2 separate regions of the Homo sapiens genome follow, and region 1 is linked to region 2. Evidence: fine-mapped expression QTL. A gene starts in region 2. The other region holds a variant in brackets. All regions are shown on one strand. Distances are between the middles of the regions.

The links.
Region 1: its variant is fine-mapped to the expression of IL1F10 in sun-exposed skin (GTEx, PIP above 0.99).

The regions. Positions count from the first base shown.
Region 1 is chr2:113,108,280-113,111,200 of GRCh38, reverse strand. It overlaps a transcript of IL1RN not described here. Among named protein-coding and RNA genes, the nearest start is that of IL1RN, 18 kb to the left of the region's middle. The variant A/G (reference allele first, on the strand shown) is at 1,490.
Region 2 is chr2:113,066,252-113,069,172 of GRCh38, reverse strand. IL1F10 (interleukin 1 family member 10) reads right to left here and starts at 1,203. Exons shown (of 5, transcript NM_173161.3): 1 at 1,157-1,203.

The DNA.
Region 1 (2,921 bases), 42 kb before region 2:
CCTTTTACTTGTCTCATAGAATTGCTGCCAAGATCAATTCAAAACAAGCCCTTATATGCGAATGTGCTTTGTGAACTGCTAATTCCTAGACAAATGTAAGAAACAATGCTTATTACACGTGAAAGGCAGTATGTGGTCAAACAGATGGCAGTGTAGGACCTCTCCAAAACCTCTAAGCCTTTTGGTTACTCCAACTGGCAGAGGCCAAATGCAAACATTTCCATTTGATAAATGGAGAGACAGAAGTAAGTATCAGGGAAGTTGGTAGGCATAACTCATTCCAGAAATTAGTTCTTGGGATCCATGTCCAACACATCGATTTAGTATGGCTCTGATGACACAATGGAAACCAGAGGCAGCCTACCCAAGAGGATATGGACACCCACAGTGGGATAGAAAGGAGTTAACATTTGTTAAACACCCACCTGTGCCAGGCACTATGCCAGGTGCTTTATATAGGTTGCGTTTTTATCCCTTTAAGAATCATAGGCACTTTACCATTGACAAGTCAAAGGTTCAAAGAGAAGGAGTAGTGGTAACTTTTTAAGGATGCAGAGCTAAGAAAGAGCAGTGTCTGGCTTTCTTCAGCACACCTAATTATCTTTGCGCAAGGTGAGGATCCTGCTCCAATGCCTCGGGAGTCATAATTGAGGGGGCACTGGGAGCTACAGAGGCTGGCCAGCATTGAAATCTGTTTCTACCCAGGAATTCAAACTGTGTGAGAGGTGAATGTCTTTGTCTCTTGCAGCAAAACGTACCTCTTTAATTTTGGGATGATCCAAGAACCTGATGTGATTGATCAGAGAAATTTGCAAAACTAGGATAGCTTGGAAAGCTAGGATAGCAAGCCCACAGCACAGAAAAAAAGCTTCTGTGAGGAACAAGGGGCACCAAGAAGAAATATTCCCATAAACCCCAGAATGACAATGGTTTCCTCAAAGGCTTCAGAGTAGGACCTGGGATTTGAGTGTTGGCACTACTGCCGGACCAGAACAGGATTGTGTTTGCCTGTGTACGTGTGCATGTGTGTGAGTGTTCATGCAGTGAATGACATGGAGTCAGATATACCATGGGGACTTTTTTTTCATCTGCAACCACATAAGTCTCCATCCAGATCTATCTAAACACGTTTTGAAGGTGACTGTGGTCCTTTGGTAAAGGCACACCAGTTCTCATCCTGATGGATAATGTGAAGTAGGTCTCCAGGTGAGGTGTGAGGATCAATCAGCAGGAAGCAGAGTCAAGAAGAAACCAAGGCATGGCCCAAATCTTTTTCTCTATGGGGAAATTTCCCCATCTGTAAAATGGGGATGAAGACAGCACCTTGGTCATATGGGTAAAGTTTGTAGTAGGACAATGCAAATATGGTAAGTGCATGTCAGCTGATAGCCATGGCTCTTCCAAAATTTTATATATGCTGAGGTTTTTTTTTTTTTTGCAGTCATAATAGTTTAGAAGTGTCATACATTTGTTGAGAATTAAGTGCTTC[A/G]TCACTATGTTGTGCCTTTCCCCCTTCCTGTTAGTGTTTTCTCAGTGAAATTCTGCTCTGATATAAAAGGGTGAACCCAGCTCTCTTCTAGTTAGTTTGACTGTGTTCTTCCATCCCTTTACTTTCAACTTTTCTGTGTTTAATATTTTAGGACTGTGTCCTGGAAATATCATTGCCAGATTTTAAAATCCAATCTGACAATATGTCTTTCAACTAGGAAGTTTAGTTCATTTTCATTTTTTGTAATCTTTAATGTATTTGGATTTGTTTTACTATCTTAATTTTTTTTTTTTTTTTTTTAGATGGCGTTTCGCTCTTGCTGCCCAGGCTGGAATGCAATGGCACAATCTCTGCTCACCACAACCTCTGCCTCCTGGGTTCAAGCGATTCTCCTGCCTCAGCCTCCAGAGTAGCTGGGATTACAGGCATGCACCCCCACACCCAGCTAATTTTGAATTTTTAGTAGAGATGGGGTTTCCCCATGTTGGTCAGGCTGGTCTCGAACTCCTGACCTCAGGTGATCCACCCATCTTGGCCTCTCAAAGTGCTGGGATTACGGGCATGACTTAATTTTTTATTTTATTTTAGCCCCTTTTCAATGCTTCTTTTTCTCTCTCACCTTATTATTTATTTTGGGTGGGGTGTTGGTGGTTGCTATTGTTTTCTTATTCCATTCCCCTTCCCATATTGATTTAGAAGTTATATACTCTGTTTCTCTTGTTTTAGTGGTTACTATTAAATTTTTGTCATGACTATTTTACTTCTCAGGGTCTAAAATTAATAAATATCTAACCCCCTACCCAAAAAAATATGATTTATGAGTATTTTTAACCTTGATCATCTCCCTCTCAACTTATAGGCTTAACATTTTAATTTGTCTTAACATTTTAGTTCTGCCCTTTTTCTAACCCCACATTTCGACTTATTTTTCAAAGATTTGTTTAGATTATTCTACGTTTCCTGTTTTCTTCCTCACCATTTTTTACTGACATCCAAGGTCCCCTGTGGTAAGCAGAATAATGCCCCTACTCCACCACCCGCAATTCCCACATCCTATTATTCCCTTGGGCCTGTGACTATGTTAGGTTACATGGCAAAAAAGAAATTAAGGTTACAGATGGAATTGAGGTTGCTAATCAGCTAACCTTAAAATAAAGAGATTATCCTGGATTATTTAGGTGGACCCAATCTAATCACAAGGGTCCTTAAAAGTAGAGAAAGGAGGCAGAAGAGGTCAGAGTGATAAGATAAGAGAAGGGAAGGGGAACATCGCACACTGGGGACTGTTGTGGGGTGGGGGAGGGGGGACGGATAGCATTAGGAGATATACCTAATGCTAAATGATGAGTTAATGGGTGCAGCACACCAATGTGGCACATGTATACATATGTAACAAACCTGCACGTTGTGCACATGTACCCTAAAACTTAAA
Region 2 (2,921 bases):
CTTTCTTATCTTCTCAGTGGACGTACTCACAGGTGTCCCATTGTTCTCCCTGCCTCAAAAGTCATCCCTTCTCATTGTCATCCATTCAGATCTTTTGATATTAAGATCACTGGAGATAGTATCAGTATAGATGGGTTCAGTATCTAGTTCTATCAAATTAATTACCAGTGTAGAGTTACAGCTTAGACATACAGGGTTATGTCTTTTAACCTCCAACCCTCAGTTTCAGCACTATACATTCATGGGATTAGATTATGTGGTTATGAAGGTTCTTTCTAGGCCAAACTATTTATAATTCCATGACTCAGAGTTTAATGAATCTTTCCCTTACTATTGTAACTCTACTCTGAACTCCTATTAAATTTTACTGTATTATTTATTGTTGTACATAAAGATATTTGTTTCCCTTATAAAAGTTTATAAGATCTTGAAGTCATGAAGCATGGCTTACAGCTCACTTGAAGCTCTCTCCAACCACCCTAATTGAACTACCCTGGTCCTTGTGGCCAGGACATAGAAACACACAGAGCAGACTTTGAATAGAAAGGCTGAGTCCTAGACCTAGCTCTGCTACCAATTTATTTTGCCACCTTTTATCCCTGGGCCTTCAACTTATCAACATTGGATGGAAAGATTGAGTAAGGTATCTTTCAAAACTGTTTTAAGTTTCACAATAAAATTTTATGCAGAATTCTAATGATTGTAAAAAGGATAAAGGGCAGCTGCTTTGCTGACACAGGAAGCAATGGAGACTTTGGAACCCTGCTAGTATTTCTCTTGCCTACAAAGAAGACACTGAGGAGCTACCAAGGAGCACAAAAAAAAAAAAAACGAAAACAAAAAATCTCTTAAGCTTCCACCAAACACGGTTTGAATACCATTGGCCCAGATGGTTTCTTTTGAGATTACTTTCTAAAGTCAGTTGTTCTAAGTAGTTCAGAAATCTTGATTTGGCTTAACCTATTCCTTCTCCTCAAATCTCTTTATGTGCTCCTAAATGTTTTTGATGTCCCATCATGTCATATGAGGGGACTACCTTGTTACCTAGACAGCTTGCCAGGAGGAGTGAAGGGATAGAGGGCATACCAGAGATATTGACAGGAGAGAGTAGAAAAGAAAGAAAAGAGAGAGAGAATATTGCCTGTCCATCACTGACCTGCAGATCCTGAGTTCCTGGAACCCTGATCCCTGGAGACTCCAACTGATTTCTCCAGGGCATTGCGCTGTGTTTATACCGTCTGGTACAGGTGGGTCAGGCCTGCACCAATCTCTATAATTGGCTGCAGGACATGAAGGAAGAAGAGCCTGGGCATTTCACAATGTCTTTGGTACAGCATGAATAATAAGATGGTGGGAACATTAAGGAGCATTTGTTGAAGGGGGAGAGAGTCATCCATAAAGCCTTGGCAGAAATAAGGTATGGGGCCCCTGCTCTGTACTGACTGTCGTTGACTATGTTATTAGTGGGTTTGCAGCCAGATAAACAGTGCTGGGGTCAGACATCTTTGGTGCCCCGTGGGGCTCCATCCTAGGCTTGAAGAGGTGGTGAATACAAGAGAAAGTATGTCTGGCAAGCCCAAGGACAGAACAAATTCTGATGCCGGAATCCAGGCTGTGGCCAGACAGCCAGAATAAGAGAAGGGGCTGATAGCACTGTGAGTGTGACTCTGTTTGGAAAGACGAGAAGGGAGTCTCTGCTTTTCAGTGGGTTTAATTAGTTGGTACCAGCTTGATGGGACAGAACATCTAGGGAAACCCAACTGCAAAGATATTGACCTCAGATTCACCCTGAGACTGAGCAGACATCATGTGCCATGGACTGCTAGGAAATATGATAGTGTGAGTAGAGCACAGAGGAAAGAACACTCAGGTCTCTAATTGACATTACTTGACTCAGTCCATCCATCCATCCATCCACCCGGCCACCCATCTGTCCATCTATCTACCCATCTGTCCATTCTTCCATCCATCCATCATCCATCCAACCATCCATCCACCCATGTGCCCATCCATCCACCCTTCTGTCCACCCTTTCATCCATCCATTCATCCATCCATCCATCCATCCATCCATCCATCCCTCCATTACAAGCGTGGAGAAGCTTAGGTGTAATGTTCTCTGGAAACTAACAACCTTATTATAATTCTCCCTCTTTGGTCATTTGCAAAGTTCCACCAAGGGCTTCTTGAGGAAGTGGGATAGGTGGGTCTAAGACTCAGATGCCTGCAGGATGAGAAATGAGAAAAGATGGGCAGAAATGGGACCAGATTTCTGCTTTCTAAGGCCAGTGATCATTCTTCTTCCACTCTCCCAATCTCTCACCCTTCTATGGGAAGGCTTAAAGCATGAGTTACTATGTCAGGCAACCAATGAGTGTTTACCCAGCATTTACACTGCTGTGTGACACAGACATTCAATACACAGTCCTTGTTGTTAAGTAGTTTCACAGTCTAGCTGAGGAACTAAGTCATAAACACTTGAAAAGATAATTAAGAAGACCAGACTCTCTAAGCTGTGGGCCAAGGACATGTTGGAAACAATAGTGGCAGATAAGCTCCTTGGGCAAAAAAAAAATCTTAGAATTGAAAGGACTTTAGGCCAGGCATGGTGGCTCATGCCTGTATCCCAACACTTTGGGAGGCTAAGGCAGGCAGATCCCTTGAGGTCAGGAGTTCAAACCAGCCTGGCCAACATGGTGAAACCTCGTGTCTACTAAAAATAGAAAAATTAGCCAGGCATGGTGGCATGCACCTGTAGGCCCAGCTACTTAGGAGGCTGAGGCAGGGGAATCACTGGAACCTGGGAGGCAGAGGTTGCAGTGGGCCAAGATGGCACCACTGTACTCCAGCCTGGGCGACAGAGTGAAACTCCATCTCATAGACATGGAATCATAGTTTCCCTCCAATTGGAGAAATCTGTGC